Homo sapiens: one gene and its partner. The protein of the gene in region 2 interacts with the protein of the main gene of each other region in a pairwise test. Each region holds a gene or a part of one and is shown on either strand. Other genes may lie near its edges. The genes, in order: SASH1 and PPP4R1.

Evidence for each region.
Region 1: the proteins of PPP4R1 (region 2) and SASH1 interact in a two-hybrid assay, tested with the Homo sapiens proteins (one large-scale study listed by BioGRID).

The regions. Positions count from the first base shown.
Region 1 is NC_000006.12:148,349,219-148,353,036, reverse strand, and holds part of SASH1 (SAM and SH3 domain-containing protein 1), read right to left. Parts: intron 1-3,818. UniProt on the Homo sapiens protein: Is a positive regulator of NF-kappa-B signaling downstream of TLR4 activation. It acts as a scaffold molecule to assemble a molecular complex that includes TRAF6, MAP3K7, CHUK and IKBKB, thereby facilitating NF-kappa-B signaling activation.
Region 2 is NC_000018.10:9,548,423-9,552,240, forward strand, and holds part of PPP4R1 (serine/threonine-protein phosphatase 4 regulatory subunit 1), read right to left. Parts: intron 1,977-3,818; coding exon 1,856-1,976; intron 1,765-1,855; coding exon 1,630-1,764; intron 917-1,629; coding exon 775-916; intron 1-774. UniProt on the Homo sapiens protein: Regulatory subunit of serine/threonine-protein phosphatase 4. May play a role in regulation of cell division in renal glomeruli. The PPP4C-PPP4R1 PP4 complex may play a role in dephosphorylation and regulation of HDAC3.

The DNA of each region.
Region 1 (3,818 bases), on a different chromosome or scaffold from region 2:
TTCATATTCTAAATAAAGAGATTCAACTATTGTTAGTAGTTAATAATAACTCACTTTTTTTTCTTTGGAGACAGAGACTTGCTCTGTCACCCGGGCTGGCGTACAGTAGCACAATCTCAGCTCACTGCAACCTCCACCTCCCAGGTTCAAGCAATTCTCCCTGCCTCAGCCTCCCCAGTAGCTGGGATTACAAGTGCCCACTACCACACCTGGCTAATTTTTGTATTTTTAGTGGAGGTGGGGTTTCGCCATGTTGGCCAGGCCGGTCTTGAACTCCTGACAGGTGATCCACCTGCCTCGGCCTCCCAAAGTGCTGGAATTACAGGCATGAGCCACCGTACCCAGCCAATAACTCACATTTATGAACTGCTCATCGTATGTCATGCACAGTTCTATTTATTTATTTATTTATTTATTTATTTATTTATTTATTTATTTATAAGAAGGAGTCTCACTCTGTCTCCCAGGCTGGAGTACGGTGGTGTGATCTTGGCTCACTGCAACCTCCACCTCCTGGGTTCAAGCAATCCTCCTGCCTCAGCCTCTTAAGTAGCTGGGACTACAGGCGCCTGCCACTATGCCTGGCTAATTTTTGTATTTTTGGTAGAGATGGGGTTTCACTATGTTGGCCAGGGTGGTCTTGAACTCCTGACTTTAGGTGATCCACCGCCTTGGCCTCCCAAAATGCTGGGATTACAGGCGTGAGCCACCAAGCCTGGCCTTTGTTCTCATTATTTAAATAATCCTCATGAGAACCCAATGATGTTGGTGACTGTTAACCTCATTTTACAGATAAGGAAACTGAGGTACAGAATAATTAAATAACTCACCCAGGTCACATGTCCGGTAAGGGTTAAAGCCACAATTTGAACTCAAACAACCTAAAATAGTTCCTTTGCTCTTAACTACTTTACTATTCTACCTATCAGTTTTCTAAGAGATGTTCAATTAACTTTTGTTTGTTTGTTTCTAAATGTTTTAACTCACAGATTAAGGTTGTTACTCTTCTCTTTCAAAACTTTTTTTTTAAAAGACTGGGCATTTCCAAACAAGGAATGCTACAAAGTTGTTAATGGTTTATTTCACAAAGGAGGTCCTTAAAATCCTATGAAAACAGACAAAGACAAACTCCTATAGCAAAGATACATATTCTTGAACTAGAGTATTCCTTTCCTCTACAAATAATTTAATGTTGAAACACTAAATTTTTAAAGCACACACACACATAAACATGTTTTAGCTCTAGGTTAAAAACAATTGTTGGCTGACAGCAAGACCAATACAAAATTATTATTAAAGTCAACAAAGTCAAGGGTGCTTAGGATACATTTTAAAGGAAACTAGGTCCTACTAGATTAAGGGCAGTTAAAAAAAAAAAAAAAAAAAGCGGTGAGTAACTAGGGCTCAGGGCATATCCCAAGATTTTTTATTCTGCTCCTCAATGGCTCTTTACTTAAAAATCATGTGATTCTTATAATGCTTTTATTTTCTTTCTTACTACCTCATGCTAGGAGAAAGAAGGAAGCCACAACCAGGCAGAGTGATGGGTGGACACATGGAAACTTCCTCACTCACTACTTGCTGCAAAAGGAATCTAGCAAATAGTGAATGAAACATCAAAATCAACCATGAATGGAACTTGCATCAGACACCCAAGGAGAACTGCAATGTATCTCTGTGAACACAGAGAACATTAGTCTGAAGAGCAAACATAAATACAAATATATTTCCGTTTTCACCAATCATCTTGAAAAACAAACATAAATACAAATATATTTCCATTTTCACCAATCATCTTGAAAGCCATAGAAGAGCCTTTCAGAAAAAAAAAAAAAAAAAAAAAAACTACTATCGCAGAAAGGAAATACTAGCCCTTTCTCAAGCGTTTGTCTTCTGAGTCTCAGAGTTACCATAATGCCTGGATACCCAGTCTCCAGGATGGAGATGTCTGTATTACATGACTTGACATGGCAGGAAAGATACAAGATAGGTTATCTCTGTGAAGCATCTCTCCTCATAAAGAATTAATGCTGCCCAGTGAAACACTTCAGAGAACAAAAGAAGGGACGTTCAACATCTGGCTAGGAGCAAAGCTAATGAGGAAGAGACCTACCATTTTCAGGTCTTCTTACAAAAGTGAATTAATAAATAGATGAGCATATCATTTGAAAAATGACAATTTATGTACTCAAAAAATACATTTTATCTCAAAATTAGTCTGAAGGTTTAGTTAATTCTTGTAGTCTCAGTCTGTACTCACAGGTATTAAATGGTATCACTGATAGTGAGAGTCAGTCTCTGTCCATTTAGATTCACTCTTTTGAGACCAATTTCATTTTTACTAATGCCAAGAATGTGTGTCAACCACAGGTAGGCACATCGTCTATTACAGTGGGATTATGACAGTCAAGTCTTAGACACGAAACAATCAGGTAGCACCACAGCACTCTTAAAAAGGACACATTAGATAAACAATAGTTTTTCCTCTTACATCCTTTGTAAAATTGAGCTACGGATTTGCAAATGAATAAATTTGCATTGAACTACATATTTCCCACTATTTCACTGTACTCTACAATTAGCTTTTAAAAGAATGATTTAAAGATCTTTCAGTGGTGTGCATATTGTTATAAATAATAATTCCCCCTTTTAAGGAACCACATTCTATCAGTATAGAGAGACAGGTATACAAATATTTGTACATATATACATGGATAGATACTTTTTTCTTTTTTCTTTAATAAGAATTACAGATGAGATCTCGCTATGTTACCCAGGCTGGTCTAACTCCTGGCCTCAAGCGATCCTCCAGCCTTGGCCTCCCAAAGCAGTGGGATTACAGGTGTGAGGCGCTGTGCCTGGCCGCCTTTTCCTTTAGAGAGAAAGAAAATCTGCCGGGCGCGGTGGCTCACACCTGTAATACCAACACTTTGGGAGGCCGAGGTGAGTGGATCACGAGGTCAGGAGATCGAGACCATCCTGGCTAACACGGTGAAACCCCATCTCTACTAAAAATACAAAAAATTAGCCGGGCGTGGTGGCAGGCGCCTGTAGTCCCAGCTGCGCAGGAGGCTGAGGCAGGAGAATGACATGAACCCGGGAGGAGGAGCTTGCAGCGAGTCGAGATCACACCACTGTACTCCAGCCTGGGCGACAGAGCGAGACTCCGTCTCAAAAAAAAAAAAAGAAAAAAAGAAAATCACAAGGCATACGACATCTCTAAAATGTCTTGCATTAACTCAGCCCACTCTTGAGCATAAAAGAATTATCAAAAGAAAGTTACCATGGAGCAGTCTTGATTACTTTAGAGACTGTACAAAGTGTTGGGCCTCAGGCAGCCAGAGGACAGGTAATGACTCGACACAGAAACATCTGGTTGGGGCTCTCACTATCCCTGCCTGGGTCACTAAAGTAGTCTCCTTCCCTCCAACCTCATTGCCACCCCATCGCCTACAAAAGTTACTTTTCTGGCCGGGCGGGCGTCGTGGCTCACGCCTGTAATCCCAGCACTTTGGAAGGCCGAGGCAGGCAGATCACCTTAGGTCAGGAGTTCAAGACCAGCCTGGACAATATGGTGAAAACCCATTTCTACTAAAAATACAAAAATTAGCCGGGCATGGTGGCAGATGCCTGTAATCCCAGCCACTTGGGAGGCTGAGGCAGGAGAATTGCTTGAACCTGGAAGGTTGAGGGTTGCAGTGAGCCGAGATCGCGCCACTGTAACTCCAGCCTGGGCAACAGAGTTTGACTCACTCAAAAAAAAAAAAAAAAAAAAAAAAAAAAAGAAAGAAAGAAGAAAGAATGAAATAAAAAAGTTA
Region 2 (3,818 bases):
AAAATAAATAAACCACCTTTAATCTTGAAGAGATTATAATTTCCAACAAAACAAATACTATGGGGCATCTGTCTCTTGCCTAATGAAGAGAAAGCAGAAGGGAGAGCAAACATAGGTAGGTACCAGCCCCCATACTGCAGATTGCAAGTGGCACGCTGCCAGGCAATGGTTTGTACATAAAAACAACACCCAAGTTTAAAAACTAAGTTTTAGGTCAGGCACGGTGGGTCATGCCTGTAATCCCAGCACTTTGGGAGGCTGAGGCAGGCAGATCACATGAGGTCAGGAGTTCGAGACCGGCCTGGCCAACATGGTGAAACCCCATCTCTACTAAAAATACAAAAAATTAGCTGGGCGTGGTGGCGGGCACCTGTAATCCCAGCTACTGGGGAGGCTGAGGCAGAAGAATTGCTTGAACCCGGAAGGCAGAGGTTACAGTGAGCTGAGATCGCACCATTGCACTCCAGCCTGGGTGACAGGGCGAGACTCCGTCTCAAAATATCAAGCAAACAAAAAAACCTAAGTTTTAAATGATAAAAATGATACATGCTTCCGATAAATAAACTCCAACTAGAACAGTAGAGGGCTAATTAAAAAATCCCTTTCATCTTCCATGCCCTCTTGGGAGAATCACCGGAACAACTAAAGTATTTCCTTCCACCAGATTATTTTCTCTGAGCAGACAATACTTCTGCTTTGATATCTGCTGATCCAGTGCAGTCCACAGACCTCCTTCTCTACTCACACGCTTCTTCTAGTGGAGTCACTACCTACCTTTTTCTAGTAGAGTTTGTCTTAATGTCTTTGCAAGCAGCACTCGCACGTTAGGAACCCTGTCATTTGCTAAGGTTAGCAGATGCGGCATGAGATGCACAGCAAACTGGTCCATGGGAAGGCAGTCATCCTCAATGACAGTCTGGGGAAGAGAAACAGCTGCTCTAGGCTTCTCTGTCAATGTAGCCAAAAACTCGACTACTGGCTAACAAAATCTCTGAGTGACCACAGGTACAAATTTTAGTTATTGCTTTTTAACCAAAATTCCACGTACTTGGGAACTCAAATCAAAAATTACATAATTAACTGCCCACACGGACAGACACAGTTTTTAAACTGCTCTACGGAGACCTAGAGTGTTCATTCACAGGTGTTTCATTTTCACACCTGCGCTCTGGGTCCCAGACATGAGCACCCTCTAGTGGGAACCGTGGTATGGTATATGTGTGCACAGTATGTGTGTGGTGGGGTACATGTATGTATGCCTGTGTAATATGCAGTGAGGAACAGTGAGGAACATGCATGTATGTGCACTGTGAAATGTACATATACACACGTCTGAATGTGTGCAGAGCAGAACACGCACATACCAGGCATGTGGTGTGGAACAAGCACATACAGCAGGCACGTGGGGTGTGTGTGGTGCATGCCAGTGTAAGGAGGGGCTTGGCTAGCTGGGAGAGAGGGGCCACCAGATGCCCAACAATGGGGGCAGATGATCCTATAAACAGCCAGGCTACTATAAGGTTCTGTTCCTTAAGAGTAAGGAAGAGGGTGAGAGAGAGGTAGGAAGTTAAAGAAGACATTCTTCTAGGAGAAAAACTCACAAACAGGTAAGCCCAGGGCCTCGCTTACCTGGCAGACAAAGACAAAGGCTTGCCGACCAGACCACTTGGGACATCTGCCAAAGTTCTCCACAAGCTCATTGATGAGGTCCACTCCGAACGTTGGTGGTGTTGCCGCGTGCAGCTTCTTCACCATCTCGCTGACCTGGGAGGGTGAGCATGGAGAAATGAGGAACAGCTTCCATTCTAGGATCTTAGAGTTTGCTGATCTAAAATTTTAAAAGTTCAATACATACCAACTTGTAGGAAATCCAACGAACAGAAGAAACTTTGTCTGCACACAGATTCAGAGCAATGGGACGTAAATAGTCATAAACATCTCTGGGACTATATAACTCTAGAAGTAAAATCAGCTGTCTACAAAAAGGAATTACAAAAAGACAATGTTTAAAAATCAGCGAGACAAATGAAAATAGGTTACCCATTTAAATCATCTGTAATACTGGATTACTGAGCACCTGTCTCAAACATACGCAAAGAGGAGTGATTAAGCAGACCTCTCCTGTACAGTTACCTCCAGTCTCTGTGTATCTGGAAATGCACTTACATGCTATTCAAGTTCCTTAGAGTGTAAGGAAAACAAAAGCTGTAGAGTTCTGCATCCATGGGGACTGAGACAGAGCAAAGCACTTCCTAGTATGTTCAACTGGAACATGGCCCACACTGATCCATGGTCACAGTTTGGAATGTGCTGAGAAGCTTCCATCTACAATCAAGTTTCTCAGTAAGAAGTCCCCGCAGAGGGAGGGAGTCCACTGTGTACCTGTCGAGGCTCTGAGGAGCCTTCCTGGAAGGGATTTGCTAGGGATAACAGAGGGAGGGTGTCCTCCAGCAACCTTCCCATCACATCTGAGGGGCCCTGAGACTTTCATGACATCTACCAAGCTAACCTGAAAGCTTCAATGATGGCCTTGAAGAAATACCTTGGATGTGAGACTTTTGCCTTTCAGATTTTATGTTCAAGAGGATTTACATTTCTAATAAGCAGAAAGTCAACTGTAACATGAATATAGATTATGCAGCAATGATAAATGCACCTGTGTATACAAATATGCATCCTCAAAGAGACACACTTATTTTCTGACAAAATTCAAAATAAAAATTCCAAATAGGACCAGTTTCTGCTTAGAATACAGAAAACTGCAAAGAACGTCACTGACCCTACAGTAGAAAAAGCTACATAAACTTCAAGATCTTTTCTTGAGCCCATCAGAGAGCTGGGGTTGCAAAGCACACAAACAACCTAACTTCCCAAGATGGGAAAGAGAACTGCCCCTCAGCAGAGCCCGGATGGACAGGACACCTGCTAGCACCTAACAGGGCAGGGAGAAATCAGCTCGAATTGCAGTCAGCTGCCCAGGGCCAGATGGTGGCTGGCAGGAGCATGGGGTGGCTCAAACAAAGCCAGATGTGCCCGACACAGGGAGCTCACATTCCCAGACAACCTTCTGACTTCCACAGGGTACCTGCCTCCCATGGGTGCTTCAAGAAAGATGGTCAGGAAAAACAGGAGAGATGTCTCATAGCAGGCAGAAGCAACTGACTGACAGCCATGAATCATCAAGCACTCTGCTGGGCCCTTTTCTCGTGCAAAGCAAAAGGCTTAACCTGCTGGTGGAGGGGCCCCAAAGCCTGTCCACCCTGTGGGCCCAGCAAAAATACTGCAACTGTGGGAGAGGAGAACTAATGCTCCTTATTCCAGGAGGAGCTGTAGGAAGTCCTGCCCGAGACCAAGCACAGATAGGAGGTCCCACCCATTACGCAGGGGTGCAGGTACCGCTAAACGCCGGGTGGAATACTCACACTAGAAGACCACTGGTACCCCAGCTGCCACCCTCAGCAAACGACAATGGTAGTGGCAGCCCACAGCGAGAAAAACTGAAGCCCCAAGTACACTGAACGTAACCACAGCAATCACAAAACGCAAACCCAGCTTGACCCTGACTAGATGGACTCACACCCCGGCACTATATGGCAGAAGAGGAGGCGTGTGTTTTGAGTCAGAAGTGGGCAAGCCAGAACTCAATGGAGTGGCATCTTTAATATACTGAAAGACAAACTGTCAGCCCCACATTCCATACTCAGCAAAGACATCATTTGAAAATGCAGGTGAGGTCTATAATCCAGAATATATAAAGAACTCTTACAACTCAACAACACAACTTAAGATAATCCAATTTAAAAATGTGCAACAGACTT